Linked DNA regions of Homo sapiens: all the other regions are linked to region 1. The links come from fine-mapping of genetic effects on gene expression. A gene starts in region 1. Each other region holds a variant in brackets. All regions are shown on one strand. Distances are between the middles of the regions.

Region 1 (8,184 bases):
TGCTGCAAGGAACTTAAGGACATCCTCCTCCTTCATTTGCAGGACATCAAGGGCTCCGGACATTGTGAAAGTTTCCCTTTAAGTTACGACGGGAATCCAGAACAACGCCGTATGGGCCCCTCTGTAGGTAGCGCGGAAAGCAAAAACAAATAGGTTTTTGTGTGGATAAAAGTTTTCACCTCATTTGATTAAATATAAGTGAGCACAATTTCTGGATAACATAGTAAAAGTACGTTTAGTTTTATAAGAAACTGCCATATTATCTTCCAAGGGGCTGTACCATTTTGTATTCCCACCAACAATGAATGAAAGTTCCTGTTGCTCTACATGGTTGCCAGCATTTGGTGTTGTCAGTGTTCTGAATTTTGGCCATTCTAATTGGTATATAGTAGTATCTCATTGTTGTTTTAATTTGTATTTCCCTCACGATATATGATGTTGAACATCTTTTCATATGCTTATTCAGATCTTTTGCTCATTTTTTAATTGAGTTGCTTATTTTCTTATTGCTGAATTTTAAGAATTCTTCAGATTCATTTTTCATTGCTTACTTAGAATAAGCCTTCTTTTCCCTCACAAGCTGCCAGTTCTACTTTCTCTTTAGTCTTATTTGTGATCCTTCTTTCTACAGAGACAAATTAAACCAGAGAAGTGGACTCTTTCCCTACAGGCAGCTGAAAGGATGTGCAAGTGCAGTTCAGAGGGGGAAATAAAAAACACGTTTTAGAATACTTCCTTGGTTAAAAGCAGTAAGTTTGGCAAAGACACATAGACTCTCAACTCTAGATTTACTGAGAATGCTAGGTAGCATATTTTTGGAGTCAAATGAAGAAGAAAAATTATAAATCCTATAGCCTACAGAATAATTATTGAATTATTTGAAGCATATGCTTTGGCCTCTGAAGCAAGGTGGAGGGGTCTGCTTTGATCAACAGATTGAGTACTTGATGGGAGTTCTTAGAAGTACAACTCTTGGAGGGTTTATTCTTCAGTCAGAGGGGAGGAGCCATTGAACGCTATTGAGCGGTGGTGGAAAATGATCAGAATTCTTCCTTCTTGGGAGGCCGAGGAAGGTGGATCACTTGAAGCCAGGAGTTCCAGAACAGCCTGGCCAACATGATGAAACCCTGTCTCTATTAAAAATGCAAAAATTAGCCGGGCGTGGTGGCATAAACCTGTAGTCCCAGCTACTCGGGAGGCTGAGGCAGGAGAATCACTTGAGCCCGGGAGGTGGAGGTTGCAGTGAGCCGAGATTGCGCCACTGCACTCCAACCTGAGTGACAGAGTGAGACTCTGGTTCAAAAAAAAAAAAAAAAATTCTTTCTTCTATATCCTATGCTGATAACACAGTAATTACCCATATGACTTGACATGTAAATGGTAGTTTTAAAGATTGGAGCCTGACTGCTCCATCTTAAACATTCTACAAGACTCTCCTTTTTTTTTTTAAATCTATCTATTTATTTATGTATTATTTATTGAGAAGGAATCTTGCTCTGTCACTCAGGCTGGAGTACAATGGAGCAATCTCGGCTCATAGCAACCTCCGCCTCCTGGGTTCAAGCGATTCTTCCGCCCCAGTCTCCCGAGTAGCTGGGATTACTGGCATTCACTGCCATGCCTGGCTAATTTTTGTATTTTTAGTAGAGACCGAGTTTTGCCATGTTGTCCAGGCTGGTATTGAACTCCTGGCCTCAGGTGATCCACCTGCCTCGGTCTCCCAAAGTGCTGGGATTACAGGCAAGAGCCACTGCGCCCGGCCTATTTATTTTTTTAGTGACCGTGTCTTGCTTTGTCATTAGGCTGGAGTGCAGTGGTTCAATCACAGCTCACTGCTGCCTCAAATTCTGGGGCTCAGGCGATCCTCACTCCTCAGTTTCCCAAGTAGCTGGGGCTATAGGCACGAGCCACCACCACCTGGCTGAGACAGAGTCTCGCTCTGTTGCCCCATATGGAGTGCAGTGGCGTGATCTCCAGCTCACTGCAACTGCCGCCAGGTTCGAGCGACTCTTGTGCCTCGGCCTCCAGGGTATCTAGGACCACAGGTGAGCGCCACCACTCCCGGCTAATTTTTGTATTTTTTGTAGAGACGGGGTTTCACCATGTTGCCCAGGCTGGTCTCCAACTCCTGAGCTCAAGTGATCCACCGGCCTCAGCCTCCCAAAGTGCTGGGATTACAGGCATGAGCCACTGTGCCAGGCCCTGGCTGATTTTTAAAATTTTCTTTCTTATTTTCTCCTCTTCTTTTCTTTCCCCTTTCTTCTTTTTTTTCTTGTTTCTTTTCTTTTCTTTCTTTTTTCTCTCTTTCTTACTTATTTTTATTTTAAAATTTTTGGATAGACGGAAGTCTCCCTATTTTGCCCAGGCTGGTCTTGAACTCCTCAGCTCAAGAGATCCGCTCACCTCGGTCTCCCAGAGTGCTGGGATTACAGGCGTAAGCCACCATGCCCCGCCCATTTTTATACGTTTAGGTTAATGCTTTCCAACAAAGCTGATGAGAGGATTACATGAGACAGTGTGAAAAATACTTAGCATTTTCTCTATTCTTAAAACCACCCCTCCTCATTTACCTCCTATGATTCATTTAATTATTTTATCTCATTTAATTCTCATACCTTCTTGCAACCTAGGGCTTAGTGGCGTAAGACCCAGGGATGATTTATCAAGTTCTCACCTCCAGGCTTTTCTTATTAGGTGTATCACTGCTGATGAAGTTAAAAATATACCATTCTTGCATATTGACTATTTTGAATTAAAAGCACTTGAAAAACAATAGATACAAAAAAATCATTCTGACCTCTTTTCTGTTTCTTAGAAGCAGATGAAATTACCATATGAGAGACATCCTCCCTATATTAGAAGGAATGCAGCACTCTTATTAAGGACGGGAGTCAAGAGTGAGAGAATCCTGTACACACCTTGCTAAAATAACTCTTAAGCCTCTCCAGATAACTTAATTGCTTTTCACAACTTGCTATTACTACTCTTACTACCGGTATTACTATTATCGTTATTCTCATTATTCTTTGTTTAATTCCGTATAGATAAGTAACTGACCATAATTGCTTCTTTGGGTCCTTCTCTCCCTTCCCTTCCCTTTTCTTCCCTTTCACTTTCCCTTCCCCTTTCCTTTCCCTTCCCTCCCTTCCTTCTTCTTCTCTAGTTCTTTTAAGGGGTGAGGGTGTCTCACTGTGTCGCCCAGTCTGGAGTGCAGTGGCGTTATCATAGCTCAGTGCAGCCTCGACCTCCTGGGCTCAATCAATCCTCCCGCGTCGGCCTCTCAAACTACTGGGAATACAGGCGTGAGCCACCAAGCCTGGCCTAGAACATAAATTTAATATCAGGTAAATCTTATCAGAGATGCATACATGTAAGGTAGAAAGAGACTACACGGTCTGCACAGAATTTTATACAAATGTATAGAGCAAAAAAGAAAAAAATTAAACTTCTCTGGATTCCATTGATTAAAAATTTAAAAAAATAAATAAAAAACTTCTTTGTCTTCGAGACGTTAAGAGGATGCACCTTCTTATAACCTTGCACCCTGCATATCCTGTGAGTGAGCCCAGAGCTACTTCCCTAGGAGCGTGCGTATTTACAGTTCCGAGGGTACGAAGGCCTCTATCTGCATTGCAGTAGAGGGACGGCCTGTTATCGGGCTTGTGAAATTGTCAAGAAGACAGCCTGGAGGGGACAGTCACCGCCCATGTCGGTAACCTTCCACTAGTCTCTGGGGTTAACAGCGTCACAGACAGGGACTTCTCCCTTGGAGCTTACATTCGAATATATTAATAACTCCAGAACGTGGTCAGTGGTCCTGGAGGACGACCGCTTCTGGTAGGGCGGCCAGGAAAAGCCTCTGTGAAGAGGCGATCTTTGAGCTGAATTTTGGAGCTTTAATAAATACTTAAAGAGCGAACGGAACGAGCGATGCCTGACGTTCAACCCAGCGGTTGCCAAGGAGCTAAAGAGCGTCTCACTTTGGCTTCCGGATTGTTATGAACAGGAGGAAGGAGAAAAAAAAACCAGAATTGTTCGAGAATTGTGCTTTCGCGGCTCTCAGGCTGAAAACGGGGTTTCCACATTAGTTCCCATCGCCAGGGGCTGAAACGAAGCCCGGGATCCAGACATTAGGCGCCTGGGGCGGGAGCCTGCAGCGGGAGCTTGCGGCGGGAGCCGGGCGAGGCAGCGGCGGGGCGGGGCCATGATGGGGCGGGGCTACGGAAGCCGAGCGGGCTCGAGGCGTTCGGCTGAGGAAGGGAGCGCACGCCGGCGGCGCGGAGGCCGGCTCTGCGCTTCGGGCCGCCCCCTCCCCCCACCCCGCTCACACCCGGCACTTACTTCGGCTGTCTCCGCTGCCCTCCAGCGGAGACGCAGCTCCTCAGGCGCCCGGCGGTATTTGTTGGGTCGGCGGCGTCAGGGATTCGCAGTGGCCTGTGGTCGGCGTCGTCCGGCCACTGGTGCGCCCCCGCGGCAGGCAGAGCTCACGCTCCTGTCCCCCGGCTGGTCCGGGGTCTGGGCGCCGCGTCGACGGCGGCTCCGCAGGACGCGCAGACCGGGCCGCAGCCCATTCCCCGAGCGGACTGCATTATGAGGCACCTGCCTTACTTCTGCCGGGGTCAAGTGGTGCGGGGCTTCGGCCGCGGCTCCAAGCAGCTGGGCATCCCCACAGGTGAGAGCAGGGCGGCCAGAGTCCCCCGGGCCGGGTCACGTGGGGAGCGGGGAGAGACGGCAGCCGGGGACTTGGGACCGGGGCGTGGGGCCTCCGGACCGCGGGCAGAGAGCACACCCTTCCTCCTCCCGCATCCCCTTGTCTGTGGCGGAGGACCGTTGGCTCGGTTGAGGGAGCTTGTCCCTGCTTCTGGCTCCGAGCTCCGCGGGGACGGGGTTGAGGGGTGGTGAGGGCCGGAAGCCCGAGATGAATCGCAGGATTCCCCGTTCACGCCTCCTTGGCCAGCCAAGGTACAGTTGGTCAAGCATTGCGCTTGTCTTGCCCATTAGAGACGTAACGTGGGCCAGAACGGCTGAACTCGCAAGCCGGGTCTAAGGTGGTTTTGTTTTTAATTTGTAATTATGTAATGTCCAAATGATAACATAGGTAGTTGAATGAGAGTCAGCTAACCTTCTTGGTCTGTCTACATTAATTTCAATAATCGAGACCTGACTGTAATTCATCCTTAGAAATACATGCCAGAGCTGCGTCTTGACTTGTTAAGTCAGCCTTGAGCTTGTGTATTTGAAAAATAAGAAGCTTTGGCCGGGCGTGGTGGCTCACGCCTGTAATCCCAGCACTTTGGGAGGCCGAGGCGGGCGGATCATCTGAGCTCAGGAGTTCGAGATCAGCCTGGCCAACATGGTAAAACCCCGTCTCTGCTAAAAATACAAAAATTAGCTGGGCATGGTGGCGCGTGCCTGTCATCCCAGCTACTCGGGAACCTGAGGCAGGAGAATCGCTTGAACCCAGGAGACGGAGGCTGCAGTGAGGCGAGATCGTGCCACTGCCCTCCAGCCTGGGCGACAGAGTGAGACACCGTCTCAAAAAAAAAAAAAAAAGAAAGAAACTTTTCAGGTGATTCAGTACCTGGTTAGGAAAGAACAGATCTGAAAAAATCCATCTACTCTGGTACTTGTTTTTTGCATCCTACTCAAAGAGTATGGATTTTTTTGGAGAGCTTTATATACTTACCTGGTACTTTATTCATAACCTATTCACATGAATAGGAGAGGGAAATCTGAGCCGGAAAATGGAAGGATGGGATTGATACTTACAGGCAAAGTTGTAGGAGTCTTGTGAATGTAATGATTTACATTAGCCTTGCATGTGATTTTTACAAATGTTTGTTTCTTATTATTATTTTGAGACAGAATCTGGCTCTGCCACTCAGGCTGGAGTGCAGTGGTAGTGCGATCATAGCTTACTGCAGCCTCCATCTGCTGGGCTCAACTGACCCTCCTGCCTCAGCCTCTCTGGTAGCTTAGACTATAGGTGCAGGCCACCATCCCCAGCTAATTTTTTAATAGAGGTAAGATCTCACTATGTTACCCGGGCCGGTCTCAAACCCCAGAGCTCAACATGAGCCTCCTGCCTTGGCCTCTCAAAGTCCTAGAATTACAGACATGAGCCACTGCACTCGGCTACAGGCATTTAATACGAAATTTGTAAGACTCAAAATATTTTCTTCTGTTGTTTAGCTAATTTTCCTGAGCAAGTGGTAGATAATCTTCCAGCTGATATATCCACTGGTATTTACTATGGTTGGGCCAGTGTTGGAAGTGGAGATGTCCATAAGATGGTGGTGAGCATAGGATGGAACCCATATTACAAGAATACGAAGAAGTCTATGGTAAGCATTATATTTTGCTCTGTAACCGAAAATGGTATGATGACTTAGAATAATATATTACAGTATTCGTTACAGAAATAGCTTATCAGTGGTAATCACAACGTAGTTCAAATACTGGAATTTTGGGCAATCTCTGTCTTTTAATTGGAGAGTTTAATTCATTTACATTTAAAGTAATTTCTGATAAGGAGGGACATCTACTGTTTTGCTATTTGTTTTTTATATGCCTTATAACTTTTATGTCCCTCATTTCCTCTATTACTGCCTTTTGTGGTAGTGTGCTTTTTGTTTTGTTTTGTTTTGTAGTGACATTTTAATTCCTTTCTCATTGCTTTCTGTGTATTTCTATAGATACTGTCTTTGTGGTTACCATGGGGTTTATATTTAACATCCTGAAATTCTAAAAGTTTAATTTGAGTTTATACCAACTTAATTTCAATAGCATACAGAACTCAGAAATTGCATCTTTTTTTTTTTTTTTAAAGATGGGGTCTCACTATGTTGCCCAGACTGAAGTGCAGTAGCTGTTCACAGGCCAGGTTGTAGCACACTGTAGCTTCAAACTCATGGGCTCAAGTAATCCTCCTCCAGCCTCCAGAGAGCTGGGACTATAGGTACATGCCACTGCCTGCATCTGGCTCAGATTACATCCTTATACATTGTGGTACCCAATAACAAAGATTAATAATTGGTTTTTTTATGCATTTATTTTTTAAATTATGTAGAAAATAAAGAGTGGAGTTACAAACCAAAATTATAATACTGACTTTGATAATTGCTGTCTGTGAAAGACTCACTTGACCAAAGATAAAAATGATTTAAAAGCCTGTTTCATAAAATTGAGCTTGCCACAATTAATGCACTTCATTCACCATTTACTTCATGCATCAATTGCGCTTGGTCACCCTCTTAAGATAAAACAGTTTACTACATGGATGGTGGATGGAGGATGGTGCTTATTGATACAGTCCCACATTGGTGCTTTTCTCTTTCCTTTTTAAACCACCTGAGGGTATACTTTTCTGCCCTACTCTTTACAGGACCCCACAACTTCAGTGTTTTATCTGTTAGATTTGGCTGAATCTTTTGTCAGCTCAAATGTGTGGCAAAAACAAATTACAGTGAAGCTAAATTTTGTTCTGTGTGGAGTTAATAGAAGTGAAGTGTGTCACTGCTGGAAAACTACAGAGCTAAATGCTGGCGTAAGCAATAGTAATGACGCAGAAGTACTTAACATTTTGCTCAGTATTTCAGTTATTTTTCAGTATTAATGATTTGAAAATTATTTTTTGGAGACAAGGAAAACAATCGAAAGATCACAAAATACCATTCTGTTGAATGAGGAAGGAAAAGAAGGGGAGGGGACAATAGCCCATAACTAATTTGTCTTTAGCTACTTAGATAACAAAAATGTTATTATACAGCCAGTTAAGGAATGCCTTTTGAGTGTTAGGAAAAATTGAATTTGAAACATAGGCATATCTTACCAGTGGAAAATTGAACTTTTGCTTGCCTTTGCCAGTAACACACATCTGTGAAGTGCCTGTGCCAGACCTTTGTCCTTTAAAAAAAAAAAAAGCGTTATCTTACTGACCTTAAATAAGTTCTTAGTAACACATCTAGATCCACTTCCTTTGTTGGAACTGTGTATTGTTGTATTACAAATTTCTTTCATTGTGTGTGTGTGTGTGGTTTTTTTTTTTTTTTTCTCAATGGTGTGTTGAAGAACAGAGTTTTGTTTTGTTTTGTATTTTCAGATAGGGTCTTGCTCTGTCACCCAGGCTGCAGTGCAGTGGTGCAATCTCAGCTCACTGCAGCCTCAACTTTCTGGGCTGAAGTG
Region 2 (8,184 bases), 39 kb before region 1:
TTACCAGAAAGGGGTCCTGATCCACACCCCAAGAGATGGTTCTTGGATCTCACAAAAGAAAGAATTCAGGGCGAGTCCATAGAGTAAAGTGAAAACAAGTATAGTAGAAAAGTAAGGGACTAAAGAATGGCTACTCTATAGACAGAGCATCCCCAAGGGTTGCTGGTTGCCCATTTTTATGGTTATTCCTTGATGATATGCTAAACAAAGGGTGGATTATTCATGCCTCCCCTTTTTAGACCATATAAGGTAACTTCCTGACGTTGCCATGGCATTTGTAAACTGTCATGGCGCTGGTGGGAGCGTAGCAGTAAGGATAATCAGAGGTCGCTCTCATTGCCATCTTGGTTTTGGTGGGGTTTGGCCGGCTTCTTTACTGCACACTGTTTTATCAGCAAGATCTTCATGACCTGTATCTAAGTACCGACCTCCCAGCTCATCCTGTGACTTAGAATGCTGAACCGTCTGGGAATGCAGCCCAGTAAGTTTCAGCCTTATTTTACCCAGCTCCTATTCAAGATGGAGTTGCTCTTGTTCACATGTTTCTGACAATCTCTCTCTCTCTCTTTTTTTCCCCATATATTTATTTTTTTCTTTTCTTTTTTTATTATTATACTTTAAGTTCTAGGGTACATGTGCACAATGTGCAGGTTTGCTACATATGTATACATGTGCCATGTTGGTGTGCTGCACCCGTTAACTTATCATTTACATTAGGTATATCTCCTAATGCTATCCCTTCCCCCTCCCCACACCCCACGACAGGCCCTGGTGTGTGATGCTCCCCACCCTGTGTCCAAGTGTTCTCATTGTTCAATTCCCACCTATGAGTGAGAACATGCAGTGTTTGGTTTTCTGTCTGACAATCTCTCTTACCTCAACAAGCACTGAACTAAGCCTGGTGCTATCCATCCATTTTGAGGGAGTCAGCATTCAACTATCCATTGCCTTTACTTCCTATATTAGGTTAGGTTGCTCCTATTAATTCCTGTCTTACTCACAGCTTGTGACTGGAAAATAGTAGGCATTCAATAAATCAATAAATGTTATTTGAGTAAATGGACGAAATTTTCAGTTTTTAATATGCTATTGTGCCTTTTTTTTTTTTTTTTTTTTTTGAGATGGAATCTTACTCTGTCGCACAGGCTGGAGTGCAGAGTGCAGTGGTGCGATCTCAGCTCACTGTAACCTTCACCTCCCAGGGTCAAGTGATTCTTTTGCCTCAGCCTCTGGAGTACTTGGGATTACAGGCAGGCACATGCCACCATGCCCAGTTAATTTTTGTATTTTTAGCAGAGATGGGCTTTCACCATGTTGGCCAGGCTGATCTTGAACTCCTGACCTCAAGTGATCTGCCTGCCTCTGCCTCCCAAGGCATTGTGACTTTCTAAGCAGGGAAATGGTGTAATTTCCCCCAAATTCCCACCACTTGTGGAAGGTATGTTCCTCAAACACCCTTTGGACAACCCTATCCTAATTTGTTACACAGATGTTTTCTTATAAGATGGAGGCCGAGGTAGGTGGATCACCTGAGGTCAGGAGTTCAAGACCATCCTGGGCAACATGGTGAAACCCCATATCTACTAAAAACACAAAAATTAGCCAGGCATGGTGGCACATGCCTGTAATCCCACCTACTGGGGAGGCTGAGGAGGGAGAATTGAACCCAGGAGGCAGAGGTTGTAGTGAGCCGAGATCGTGCCACTGCACTCCAGCCTGGGTGACAGAGCGAGATTCTGTCTCAAAAAAAAAAAAAAAAAAAAAAGATATGGGAACTACTGCTTAGCACTCTGTCATTCTTACTAAAGGAAGTGCTCCAGGATTGAATGTACCAATAAATTTAAGACCCTTCACTGTGTGAAAACCCTAATCTTAGGACTCTTTTCCACTCAAGATTATGGTCTTTGTTATGGACCTAATTGTGTCCCTCCCCAAATTCATATGTTGAAGTCCCAACCTCTGATGTGACTGTATTTGGAGATAGGGCTTTAAGAATGTAATTAACATTAAATGAGGTAATAAGGCTGGGACCTTAATACAATAGGACCAGTGTCCTTGTAAGAAGAGTAAAAGACACCTAAGAACTCTTTCTCTCTCTTTGTGGGTACACACAAGAGGACAGACACAGTGAGAAGATGGCCATCAACAAACCAGAAAGAGAAGCCTCACCAGAAACCAAACTTGCTGGCACCTTATTCTTGGATTGCTAGCCTCCAGAACTGTGAAGAAATAAATTCTGTTGTTTTAGCCACAGAGTCTGTGGTAACTTGTTATGGTAGTGGGAGCTGACTAATTCAGTCTTCTTGAGGCTGAATTTGGGACCAGTGGGGGAACTGGTCCCAAAATTTCAACGTAGGCTCTTTCTATTTTCCATAATTGCTGGCCAGTCTGAGAAATAAAGAGAAAGACTACAAAGAGAGGAATTTTACAGCTGGGCCGCCAGGGGTGACATCACATATCAGTAGGTCCATGATGCCCACCCGAGCCGCAAAACCAGCAAATTTTCATTAGGGATTTTAAAAGGGGAGGGGCTGTATGAACAGGGAGTAGCTCACAAAGATCACATGCTTCAAAGGGAAAAAGGGAGAACAAAGATCACATGGTTCTGAGGAAACAGGGCAAGGACAAAAGCAAAGATCACAAGGCAAAGGTCAAAATTAGAATTACTGATGACGGTCTATGTTCAGCTGTGCACGTATTGTCTTGATAAACATCTTAAACAACAGAAAACATGGTTCGAGAGCAGAGAACTGGTCTGACCTCAAATTTACCAGGGTGGGATTTCTTCCCCACCCTAATAAGCCTGAGGGTACTGCAGGAGACGGGGCGTATTTCAGTCCTTATCTCAACCACACTTCCAGAGTGGCTGTTTATAGACCTCTCCCCAGGAATGCAATTCTTTTCCTAGGGTCTTAATATTATATTCCTTGCTAGGAAAAGAATTTAGCGATATCTCTCTTACTTGCACATCCATTTATAGGCTCTCTGCAAGAAGAAAAATATGGCTCTTTTTGCCCCACCCCGCAGGCAGTCAGACCTTATGGTTGTCTTCCCTTGTTCCCTAAAATCGGTGTTATTCTGTTAGTTTTCAAGGTGCACTGATTTCATATTTTTCAAACACACATGTTTTACAATCAGATTTCATGTTGTTCAAACACAAGTTTTACAATCAATTTGTACAGTTAACACAATCATCACAGGGTCCTGAGGTGACATACATCCGCAGCTTACAAAGATAACAGGATTAAGAGATTAAAGACAGGCATAAGAAATTATAAAAGTATTATTAGGGGAGTGATAAATGTCCATGAAATCACAATTTATGTTCCTCTGCCATGGCTCCAGCCAGTCACTCCATTCGGGGTCCCTGACTTCCCACAATAGTGAGTCCTGAACATGACCTATGGCTCAGAGAGCTCTCTCTAGCCTATTTATCCTGGTGTCATAGCTTCTGTTGATGATGATAATCATACTACATTAGTCCCCCCTTATCCACAGGAGATACGTTCCAAGACCCCCAGTGGATACTCGAAATCCTTAATAGTACTGAACCCTGTAAGTGCTATGCTTTTTCCTATGCATAATGTGAAAATAAAATGTAAAAGCTGTTGAAATCCCCCAAACACTATAAGCCTTGAGAGAGATGTGACTCTGATCTGAGTCATGCAGCATGTAGTTGTAACTTCTACTTCTTAGGTTATAGATTAAGTGAACCGAAGAATAAGGAGGAACTGCTGTATTATTTTTATATAACTTTGAATTTTACAGAGCTCTTTCACAGGCATCAGCTCAGTGGCACTTTGCAACAATTGAGGGATATGAGGAGGTTCACTGAAGGACAACAAACTGAGGGCTGAAGTCACAGCCACTAGAAAGTAGAAGGGTCAGAATCCCCTATTGTCTTAAATCCATCACACATCCTACTATCTGGTACTGACACAGGATTTTTCTCAACCACCTTGCCAGCAGGAAACCTCCAGCCGGTGATACCCCTGCCCAGGCTTCCCTCAGCCCAGGGCTCCCTGCAAGAGGCACCCTGCCCACTCAGCCTGCCAAACTGTGCCTGGCTTGCACTCCAGCATGGATCCTGTGGCCACCGCGACTGCAGCACTCAGCCCCTGGCAGGAGGGGGTGTGTGGGCAAGTGAGTCCAGGGTCTGGCTGGCCTCTCCAAAGGCCAGCACAGGAGCAGTCTACATGTGGGGCTAGTGGCTGGCCCAGGCATGTGGCAAGTGACTCCCATGGTGGACTCCAGCATACAGATGAGGGGTACGCCGTGGCACACAAACAGCAAAACCTGCAACCCCAAAGCCCCAGAGGGGGTGTTACAGTGTGCTAACAGCTGTTTTAGTTCCTCCACAGCCTGATGAACAGGGGCACGTTAACAGTTCTGTCAGTCCCATTGCCCCACTCCAGCCCACAGGTTTGGGGATGACCTGGCCCTGCTGCTTTCCGTTACGTGGGGCAACTGCTGAGCTCCGAAGAGGGGGCAGGGCAGAGGGCTACAGTGTTACTGTCGTCTTTGTACCTGCATTCGGAGGGGTCCCAAGTTCTTGGTCCGCATCCAAGAAGAATGAGATTATGCTGACTATTGAAGGGTGAGGAGGGCAGAGAAGAGTTTTATTGAGTGATGAAACAGCTAATGAAACAGCTCTCAGTAGAGAGGGGCCACAAGGGTGGTCTCCCACTTGGTCGGGTGGTCTCTCTCTCAGTGTGGCTGGGTATGGGGCTTTTGTGGGCTCAGAAGGCAGGAGTGCATGCTAATTGGTTTGTGAGTATCCAAAAAAGCCTAAAACAAAGGCACCGTTCAAAGGTGAGCACGACTGTAAAAAAACAATTAGGAAAGAGAAGGTATATATAAAATAGGTGAAGGGTGAGGATCAATCAAAGGAAAGCATGACAAATAGAAAGAGATTCTCAATCCAGTTCCTATGTTTATGCAAGACTTTTAGCTTGGCTTTCAGGCTTTAAACTGCCTTTGGCTTGAAGGTGGGGTTTTACCAGGGATCCACCCCATCTGCCTAGTCATTTGACTGCCTCCTACCGCTATCAGTATGTGAAAGACAATATTAAA[C/G]TAAGGATGGGCACAGTGGAGCACGCCTGTAATCCCAGCACTTTGGGAGGCCCAGGCAGGCGGATCACCTAGGCTCAGGAGTTCTCAACCAGCCTGGGCAACATGGCGAAACCCTGTCTCTATAAAAAATACAAAAATAAGCCAGACATGGTGCTGCGTGCCTGTAGTCCCTGCTACTCTGGAGGCTGAGGTGGGACCGCTTGAGCCTAGAAGGTTGAGACTGCAGTGAGCCATGATTACACCACTGCATTTGAGCCTGGGCAACAGAGTGAAACCCTGTCTTGAAAAAACAAAAAACAAACAAATATATTAAACTAGATATTAGACATTTTAAGACTCAATTGCCCATATTTTCACTAGACAATTTTAATTTGGATTGCCTACATTTTTTTTGGACTAGATGTAATGTATTTTATGTAATATACTAAATGTAATATATTTAGGTCACCCAATAAAAAATTTGGTCTTTGTCTCATGCTTTTGGCAAGGAGCTTCTAAAACCCTTGGAATTTCTTTCCTTTTTTTTCCTTTTCTTGAGACAGAATTTTGCTCTGTTGCCCAGGCTGGAGTGCAGTGGTGCAATCTCAGCTTGCTGCCACCTCTGCCTCCCGGGTTTAAGCGATTCTTCTGCCTCAGGCTCTCAAGAAGCTGGGATTATGGGTGCCCATGACCACACCCGGCTAATTTTTGCATTTTTAGTAGAGATGGGGTTTCACCATGCTGGCCAGGCTGGTCTCAAACTCCTGACCTCAATTGATCCATCCACCTCGCCTCGCAAAGTGCAGGAATTACAGGCATGAGCCAACGTGGCTGGCCTGGAATTTCTTAAGGGATAGGAGTCTTTGTTGTGTTAATGAGGTATTAATGGCAGGCTCTTGGATGGCTACAGCTAGGGGACTGGTCACTGGAAAGACCAACCGCTTAATTTGAGGGTTGGCGCTTTGATATCAGCCTGACCTCCCGACTTCCAAAGAGGCGACTGGGGCTGGAGATTGAGTTCAATCAAGTGGACAGTGATTAAATCAATCATGCCTAGATAATGAAACCCCAATAAAAGACTCTGGTCATGGAGGCTCAGTGGGACTTCCGGGTTGGTGAACACATTGATGTGCTAGGAGGGTGATGTTTCCTGATTTCAAGAGGAGAGAGCAAGAAAGCTCTGTGTTCTCTCCCAGACCTCACCCTATGCGTAACTTTTATAATAAAATTATAATCATAAGTGTAGCACTTTCCTGAGTTCTGTGAGTTGTCCTAGCAAGTTACTGAAACTGAGTGGATCATGGGACCCCCAAATCTGTAGCGAGTAGGTCAGAGTATGGATGACCTGGGGTCCCTGCTAAGGGCTGGCATCTGATGTGAGGGCAGTCTTGTGGAGGATTGAGCCTTACCTTGTGGAGTCTGATGCTAACTCCATGTGGTTAGTGTCAGAACTAAATTTCAGTGCACCTAGTTATTGTTAGCCCAGTTGGGGATTTTGCCAGGACGTTTTAACATATTCATTTACTTTCCTCCCTCTGTAACAGATGTTCATTTTAGAAAATTTAGATATGAGAAAATAAAAATCATCTGTAACTCCACTACCCAAATTGAACTACTCCAATATATATTCTTTCATTCTTTTTCCTGTGTATGTGTGTGCATGTTACTTTAAGAGATGAGGCCAGGTACAGTGGCTCATGCCCGTAATCCCGGCACTTTGGGAGGCCAAGGTAGGTGGATTGCTTGAGGTCAGGAGTTCGAGACCAGCCTGGCCAACATGGTGAAACCCTATCTGTACTAAAATTACAAAAATTAGCTGGGTGTGGTTTGGTGTACACCTGTATTCCCAGCTACTCAGGGGCCTGAGGCACAAGAATCACTTGAGCCTGGGAGGCGGAGGTTGCAGTGAGCTGAGATTGCACCACTGCACTTCAGCCTGGGCCATTGAGTGAGACTTGGTCTCAAAAAAAAAGAGGACTAACCAGGTGCAGTGGCTCATTCTTGTAATCCCAGCACTTTGGGAGACCAAGGAAGGAGGATGGCTTGAGCTCAGGAGTTCATGACCAGCCTAGGCAACATAGTGAGACCTCATTTCTACCAAAATAAAAAAAAAAAATTAGTCGAACATGGTGGCAAGCACCCTTAGTCCCAGTTACTGAGGAGGCTGAGGTGGAAGGATCACTTGAGCCCCCGAGGTCAAGGATGCAGGGAGCCATGATCCCACTACTGCACTCCAGCCTGGGCAACAGAGTGAAACCCTGTTAAAAAAAAAATGAGTGTTCTGTCAATAATTATGTGAAAAGATATACAACCTTACTAATGACCAGAAAAATGCAAATTAAAATAGAAACAATAATGAGATTTTTTAAATCCTTCTCGGATTGGCAAAAAATTTAAAAGTCATGTAATACCAAGTGTTGTCAAGAATGTAGGGAAATAGAACTTTCACCCACTGCCAGTATATAGTAGGTTGCAAAAAAACAGCCACCTATTTCTCCCATTCCTGTATACATAACGCTTTACTATATAATTTTGTCTCTTTTGCCACCAAAGGCTAGAGTATATTTCTCTGCCCCTTGAATCTGAGCTTGGTCATGTGCCTTGCTTTGGCTAATGGGACATTTGCAAATGTGATGAAAATAGAGGCTTGAGGCTGGGCATGGTGACTCACGCCTGTAATCCCAGCACTTTGGGAGGCCGAGGCGGGCAGATCACAAGGTCAGGAGATCGAGACCATCCTGGCTAACATGGTGAAACCCCATCTCTAATAAAAATACAAAAAATTAGCCGGGCGTGGTGGCGGGTGCGTGTAGTCCCAGCTACTCAGGAGGCTGAGGCAGGAGGATGGCAGGAACCCGGGAGGCGGAGCTTGCAGTGAGCCGAGATTGCGCCACTGAACTCCAGCCTAGGAGACAGCGAGACTCCGTCTCAAAAAAAAAAAAAAAAAAAGAAAGAAAACAGAGGCTTGAAAACCTTCTATTCATTAGGGCTTGTACTTTCTTGCTGGCAAGAATCTTTCTGCTTGTATGTGAGCAAGCTGGACCTAGCCTCCTAAATGATGAGAGAGACTCCAGCTGTCACATATGAATAAACTATCTTAGAAAATCCAGTCCTGGCCAAGATCACCAGCCC
Region 3 (8,184 bases), 58 kb before region 1:
ACCTCAGTCTCCCATAATGCTGGGATTACAGGTGTGAGCCACCTTGCCCAGCCCACTTATTTTTAATGCCTGCAATAACATACACCCATAAATCTATACAAGTAGTTTAGAAGGTATTTCTGGAATGCTTAGGGGTGTATCAGTCAGGGCCCAGTCAGAAAACAGAAATCACAGCAATTACTTTTACAGAGAATTTAAGGTCATGAAGATTGGCAAGGCAAAAACATTGTAGTAACAGAGAGAGAGTAACTGCAGGAAGCAGCTGCCATGCACAGAGCTGGGGAGAGGGGAAGTGTTGGGGTTATCAGAACCTAACAGCCAGGAGAGGGCCCCTGGTTGGCTGGGAGTCAGACCTCAAAGGAGGGGGCGGTACCCAGCTGGTGCTTTTATCTCTGAAGGTAAATATTGAGGCTGGATGGGAGAGGGTGGATTAAAACAAACAAACAAATCTAAGAAACTGGAACCAGCTGTTGCTGCAGCCAGGGAGAAGAGCCATTGCTTGGTAACATGGACAGGAACAGTAAGCAGCTATAAAGTAGCAAGTCCCTCTCCTCAAGCACCCCTTATAAGCAAAACCTTATAGGAAATGTGATTTGCTAAGTCCCAGCCCTGGCTCACAAAGCAGAAGATAGAAGCTTGAGTTTGAACTCTAAGACATACTTCAATAACCAGCACAAGGAGCAAACTCATGATCACAAACACCCAACTCTCCTAATATTATAGATGTGGGAAAGTGTCTGATAAACACAGCTGTCATAGTAATGATTAATACAATAGCAATATATTCTTAAAATGTCATAATAAAACTATAGTTACAAGTACAATCAAATAACGGGACAGAGGCAGGGCATGGTGGCTTATGCCTGTAATCCCAGCACTTCGGGAGGCCGAGGTGGGCAGATCACTTGAGGTAAGGAGTTCGAGTTCCAGCCTAGCCAACATGGCGAAACCCCGTCTCTACTAAAAATATAAAAATTAGCTGGGTGCGGTGGCACATGCCTGTAATCCTAGCTACTGGGGAGGCTGAGGCACGAGAATCGGTTGAATCTGGGAGGCGGAGGTTCCAGTGAGCCAAGATCATGCCACTGCACTCCAGCCTGGGTGACAGAGCAAGATTCCATCTCAAAAATAGATAAATAAATAAGAATAAATTAAAAAAAAAGTAAGGGGATGGTGTTGCTTGACCTATACTTTGTGTTACTGGAGACCAGTGAACATCCTCTCCCGGCTGTATTTTCTGAGAAACCACTAACTACATAGAACCACCTTTCCCCAAATGACTTAGGTAATCATCATGGATAACATCCTTTCACACTTACAACAAGGCCATAGACATGCGCTCCAAATTTCCATTCTCATCTTATAAATGGTTAGCTGAACCATTTGCCCCTACTGATCAATCTGGGCAAATACCTTACTTGATCAAACTTCAATGAGGCTTTTCTCCTTCCATCAGGTCTTTGCCCTTTAATCTAGTCTCAGCCTAAACCAGCATTGGAATTTGGAATAAGCCCCTTAATGTCCTGTATTAGTCTGCTTTCACATTGCTATAAAGACATTTCTGAGACTGGATGATTTATAAAGAAAAGAGGTTTAAAGGCTGGGTGCGGTGGCTCACGCCTGTAATCTCAGCACTCTGGGAGGCTGAGGCGGGCGAATCACAAGGTTAGGAGTTCGAGACCAGCCTGACCAACATGGTGAAACTCTGTCTCTACTAAAAATACAAAAATTATCCAGGCGTGGTGGTGCACGCCTGTAATCCCAGCTACTCAGGAGGCTGAGGCAGGAGAGTCGCTTGAACCCGGGAGGCGGAGGTTGCAGTGAGCTGAGATCATGCCACTGCACTCCAGCCTGGCGACAGAGTGAGACTCTGTCTAACAAAAAAAAAAAAAAAAAAAAAAGAAAAGAAAAGAGGTTTAATTGACTCACAGTTTTGCCTGGCTGGGGGGGCCTCAGGAAACTTTTAATCATGACAGCAGGGGAAGAGGCACATCTTACACGGCGGCAGATGAGAGAGAGCAAGCAAGAGCAGGGAAAACAGCCTTATAAGACCATCAGATCTCCTGAGAACTCACTCACTATCACAAAAACAACACGGGGGAAACTGCCCCCACGATCCAATCACCTCCACCAAGCCCCTCCCTCACCACGTGGGGATTATGGGGATTACAATTCAAGATGAGATTTGGGTGGGGTTTGGGTGGGAACACAGCCAAACCATATCACATCCCCTCCCAAGAAGCCCTTTTCCAGCTGACCACAAAGAAACTCTGTCCTGATCAGTTGCCTGATTGGGCCACCTGCTCATCCCACTCCCTGATACTGGTTCTTTTTTTTTTTTTTTTTTTTTTTTTTTTCTTTTCTGAGACAGAGTTTCGCTCTTGTTGCCCAGGCTGGAGTACAATGGTGGTGCAATCTCAGCTCACTGCAACCTCCGCCTCCCGGGTTCAAGCGATTCTTCTGCCTCAGCCTCCCAAGTAGCTGGGATTACAGGCATGCACCAACCATGCCCAGCTAATTTTGTATTTTTAGACGAGTTTTCACCATGTTGGTCAGGCTGGTCTCAAACTCCTGACCTCAGGTGATCCTCCCACCTTGGCCTCTCAGAGTGCTGGGATTACAGGCATGAGCCACCGCACTCAGCCGATACTGGTTCTTTTTAACATTGTTTACTACTACCAAAAAAAGAAAAACCCTTTTCTGCCTGACCTTTCAAAAGCTTGCAGATCTTATGGTTGAAGCATTCTATTAGAATGCCGTCCCTCCCCTATTGCGACATTCTCTTTTTCTATTGCAATAATCCTTCTAAATAAAGTCTCTCCTTACCTAGATCTGGATTTGGTTTTTATTTGACAGTTCTCATTGCTGTGATCCAGCTCAAGACTGGAACTCACCTAGGGACCTCCACCAGCCCCACCCAGGTAAAGGTGCCATGTTCAGGACTTGAGGACTCTTGGGTGAGTTCAAGTCTTGAACCAGTGCTCTGGCCATCTTGTCTGTTGAAGAACAGTAAGAGGTTACTTTGATTGTTTCAGGCAAAGAGATGCTTTGGCCCTCCTGTGAGACTTCTGTGTTTCCTCAGCTCCTCGACCTGGGGATTGTTCAAGGGAATTAATCAAGTGGGAGTTTTTCTTGGCTCCTTTAAAGACTTTTCTTTGGGCTGACTATCCACTAATGCCATGGGTAACTCTCACTCTATCAGATGCCCTCCTCTTCCCCCACTGAGTACCTGCTATTATGGCACTAATTCAGTTTAATAGCCTCAAAAATGGCACAATTTACTAAAGGTAACCTAGAACCTCAAAGGCCTCTTTGGGAAACATGAGATCTCCTTAAACCAGCTCATCTAAGACTTCTCCCTTCCCATCATCCTCATCCCTCCTTTTTACCACTTTAAACCTTCTCTTTTGTTGCCTTGAATGATTTAATCTGTCCACCTCCTTCACCCATCTACCCATTCCTACACACCTTTTCCTACCCACTCCAGCTCCTCAACTCATGGTCACTCAAGATTAGGCCTCCCTTCTGTTCTGACCACCTTCTCTTCACAGCACTGGTGAAGCAGGGATCTCCTGTGCTAAACAGGAGATGGCTGAACAGATGACACCCAATACTGGGCAGATGAGATTGGCTACAGTTTTTTCAGTTACATACTCACAGCCTAAGGGGTGAGGAGGTTATTGCATGCCAGGCAGAGCCACATGGGAATTGCATTTGAAAGCAGACTGAAGCAGCAGGGGCTGTGTGAGGCAGGCTTTGTAGTAATGGCACAAGAGTGAGGTAACCTTTTATTCCACGGGAGGATGTAATTGGCTTGTTCAAATAGTTCTGTGGGCTGGCAGGTAGGTAAAGCTCCTTAGATTGAAGATTAAGTAGGGTACAGCTGGTCTGGCTGAAGGGGAAACTAGCTGGGTAGGGAGCCCTTCCCACTTCGGGGGTGATATGGTTTCGATCAGTGTCCCTGCCCAAATCTCATATCGAATTGTAGTCCCCAGTTGTGGAAGTGGGGCCTGATGGAGTGTGATTGAATCCTGGAGGCGGTTTCTAATGGTTTAGCACCATCCCTTTGGTGCTGTCTTGTCATGGAGTTCTCATGAGATCTGGTTGTTTAAAAGTATGTGGCACCTCCTCCCTGCCTCTCCTCCCCCTGCTCCAGCCGTGTAAGATGTACCTGCTTCCCCTTCAACTTGCATCATGATTGTAAGTTTCCTGAGGCCTCCCAAGCCATGCTTTCTGTGCAGCGTACAGAACTGTGAGCCAATTAAACCTCTTTTCTTTATAAATTACCCAGTCTCAGGTAGTTCTTTATAGCGATACAAGAATGGTCTAATATAAGTACCTAGATCATTTCTAAGTAAGATAGACTAGTGGAGCATAATTTAAAGCTTATGTAAATTTTTTTTAGTACAGAGAGGCTAAATATATTTTGGTCTGCTAATGATGTGTTCATTCTTGCCACACTGAAAAGTTGTACAGGCCAGGTGCAGTGGTTCACACCTGTAATCCCAGCACTTTGGGAGGCCAAGGTGGGTGGATCACCTGAGGTCAGGAGTTTGAGATCAACCTGACCAACATGGTGAAACCCCATCTGTACTAAAAATACAAAAATTAGCTGGATGTGGTGGCAGGGGCCTGTAATCCCAGTTACTCGGGAGGCTGAGGCAGGAGAATCACTTGAAGCCAGGAGGTGGAGGTTGCAGTAAGCCGAGATCACACCATTGCACTCCAG[C/T]CTGGGCGACAGAGAGAGACTCCATCTCAAAACAACAACAACAACAACAAAAAAAAAAAAAAAAAAGAAAGAAAGAAAAGAAAAGAAAAGTTGTACTATAAGGAAGTGTATGGCTATAAAAAAGTCACAAGATATATAACCTTAAGCTTGACTAGTCTGCTACAATATGCTGGTATATGACAGACAGCTAATTATCTACTTCATAGTTTTCTCTGTAGGTATATTACTTTGCTAGGTCTGTCAACAAAGTACCATAGACTGGTACTTTAAACAACAGAATTTTGTTTTCTCACAATTCTGGAGGCTGGAAGTCCAAAATTGAGTGTCAGCAGAGTTGGGCTTTTTCTGAGGCCTCTCTCCTTGGCTTGTAGATGCCAAGATTAATATTTCTTTGGCCTTTTATATTAAAACTTTTAATTAACATTTATCTTTTTAATGGTAGGCATTCCTCATTTTAAGATACCTGACCCTTAAACAACTGATTTTTGCCACCACCTTTCAACAGATGCTTCAGCTGGTTTTGTGGGAACAACACCAACCAGAGTCCCCAGGAGACCGTTTCTTAGTCCCTGACTCACCCCATGTAGGAGGCTTAGGATTGCATCTGAATTGCTCAGTGGTGAATAATATTCTTTTATCATTAACAAAAGGGAGGTCAACAGTGTTGATCTTTGCCAGAGCCTTGTTTTTCTGAAAAATAGCACTGGCTAAAGAGCTCTCCTCATCCTTTTATGATAGCCACCCATCCTCTTCTTGCAATAATCCTTTTGAATAAAGTCTCCCCTTGCCTAAATCCAGATTTATTTTGACAAATGCTACAAAATTAGTTTTGAATTGTTTTAGAAATTTAATCAAATTACATTGAAAAGAACATGAGGAAGACATAAAAGAGTAAGGTACTACTTTCAAAGCATGGAGAAAGCAAATTCAATCATAAATGTACTGTCCAGGAAAAAAAGAAAGTGTGGCTCCTAAGCATGCAAATTCCAGGTAGAGTAAAGCCTGAAATATGTTTCTAAAACCCATACATGTAAGTTCTTTAATGTTTTTAAAAAGAAACAGGTTGATCCCTTTTAAGAGCAGGCAGCATTTCTCAGAATGGCAACAAAGCTAAAATCACACACAAAATAGTTTGATATAGTTAATACATTAAAGTGTTAAATGTATGCATAACAAAATATATCATAAACAAAGTTAAAAGTCAACAAACTAGAAAATATATGCAATAGTATGTAAGCAAAAATTAATTTTTCAAATAAAGGGGTGTTTACGTAAAAATATGCACCAGGTGAAAAATGGGCAAAGGGCATGATAAGATACTTCACTAAAGAAGAAATCCACATAAAAAGATGCTCAATTTCAATAGGAATTGAAGAAAAGCAAATTAAAACTACAAATCACTTTTTACCTATCAGATTGGCAAAGTTGAAAAAGATTGATAAACATAATATAGATGAAGGTGTAGGAATACAGACTCCTGTGCTGCTCTCTGTTGTAGAGATTTCTACAAACTTTCTAGAAGGCATTTGGACAACATGGATACTTATGGACAACTATTCATCTAGGAATTTATCCTATGTAGGAAATTTTACAAATACACAAAGATTTCAGAATCGAAACACTGTAAACAATGTAAGGGTTGTTAAAAAATAATTTTCAGAGAAAGATAAAATCATGACTCATACAAATATAAAAGTGCACATCTGTTAAGGAATTTACGCATATGCTATAAGGGAATCAGATGTACGTTATAAACATTTCAAAGGAAAAGTCAAAAAGCACAGATTTATCTGGAGTAAAGGAATGTTAAGATGAATTGCAAATGGAAACAAAACTGGTATTTTCATAGGGTGGGGATGGCGGGAACCAATTAAATTATTGCCAGACAGGACAGAATTTACACACCATCAGTTACATATAATTTATAAAAAGAGGCGAATAGGGCCGGGCGCAGTGGCTCACACCTGTAATCCCAGCACTTTGGGAGGCTGAGGCTGGTGGATCACTTGAGGTCAGGAGTTTGAGACCAGCCTGGCCAAAACGGCGAAAACCTGTCTCTACAAAAAATACAAAAAATTAGCTGGGCGTCTGTAATTCTAGCTACTTGGGAGGCTGAGGCATGAGAATCACTTGAGCCCAGGAGGCAGAGGTTGCAGTGAGCCGAGATCACACCATTGCACTCCAGCCTGGGTGACAGGGTGAGACTCTGTCTCAAAAACAAAACAAAACAAACAAAAACGAAAAGGTTTATTTTGTTTGCATATGTAAGCTTCACAGAAAAAAAGTGAAAATCCCAAAGAGGTGCTTAGACCCAGGAGCTTATACAGCATTTTAACAGAGGATGATAAAGTGTGGGAAGCTACTAGACAAGGGAAATGGGGAGAGGCTGCGCTTCTCTGGTGTGGGTAAATTGTGGGAAGGTAACTGGGAAAGGCATGGTAATTAAGGCTTGTTTAGTGAGGTGTGTTATGCAGATGAATTGTTCACCTTATTCTGGTATGGGAGAGGGCATCACCTTTGCAAAGGGAAATTAGGCAAACGTTTGTAGGTAGAAAGAGAGAGGGCAAAGAGTTTTGCTTGTGTCTGCTGTTTCTCAGTTGCCTTTAGCTCAAAATAATCCTTATGCCAATATGGCATGTTTTGAGGTGGCACATTCTTTTTTACTTTTACTATTATCATTTTATTTGCTTGTTTTTTTTTTTGTTGTTTTTTATAGAGACAGGGTCTTGTTTGTTGTTGCCCAGGCTGGAGTGTGGTAGTGTGATCATACCTCACTGTCATCTTGAACCAAGTAGCTAGGACTACAGGTACACACTACCCCGCCCCGCTAATTTATTTTATTTTGTTTTTGGTAGAGACAGGGTCTTGCTTTATTGCCCAGGCTGGTCTCAAACTCCTGGCCTCAAGGGATCTTCTCACTTCAGCCTCCCAAAATGCTGGGATTATAGGCCCTGCCACCATGCCCAGCCTGGGGTGGCATATTCTGATCCCTTTCCCATTGTTTCAGAAAGATGTTTCCATTTTGGAAAAACATAAAATAAATGAACAAATAATAGTAAATTTAGCATTTCTGTCCAAAAGAAAATGACATGTACAGTGAGCAGATGCCCATCAGGGTGTTTACCAGCAAAAACAAGTTAAAAGAAGTACCTGTCTGAATGGATCAACAAATTGCAGCATATCATATTAAAATAATGGAATGACATTTAAGAAAGCAAAATTGATTCACACTTCAACATGGATGAATCTCCAGACCTTATGTGGAGATAAAGATGCCAAACACGAAAGAGTACAGACCGTTTGATTCATGTTTATGTATCTGAAATTCTGGAAGAGGCAAATCTAATCTATAGTGACAGAAAGGAGAGCAGTTGTTGCTGGGGCTGAGTGTGGGGAGAGGAGGGCATTTGCTTTTTGGGGTGATAGAAATGTTCTTTATCTTGATTGTGGTAATA

Evidence for each region. PIP is the estimated chance that this variant, and not a neighbour inherited with it, causes the effect.
Region 2: its variant is fine-mapped to the expression of RFK in lung (TOPMed, PIP above 0.99).
Region 3: its variant is fine-mapped to the expression of RFK in tibial artery (GTEx, PIP above 0.99).

The regions. Positions count from the first base shown.
Region 1 is chr9:76,390,578-76,398,761 of GRCh38, reverse strand. It overlaps RFK (riboflavin kinase), which reads left to right and starts at 4,336. Exons shown (of 4, transcript NM_018339.6): 1 at 4,336-4,672; 2 at 6,193-6,344. The coding sequence starts at 4,591. It also overlaps a transcript of GCNT1 not described here and the pseudogene RPSAP9. RefSeq lists enhancers at 3,678-3,917, 4,095-4,389, 4,252-5,065 and silencers at 4,198-4,257, 4,278-4,357, 4,398-4,887.
Region 2 is chr9:76,429,533-76,437,716 of GRCh38, reverse strand. It overlaps a transcript of GCNT1 not described here. Among named protein-coding and RNA genes, the nearest start is that of GCNT1, 26 kb to the left of the region's middle. The variant C/G (reference allele first, on the strand shown) is at 5,074.
Region 3 is chr9:76,448,560-76,456,743 of GRCh38, reverse strand. It overlaps a transcript of GCNT1 not described here. Among named protein-coding and RNA genes, the nearest start is that of GCNT1, 6.5 kb to the left of the region's middle. The variant C/T (reference allele first, on the strand shown) is at 4,730.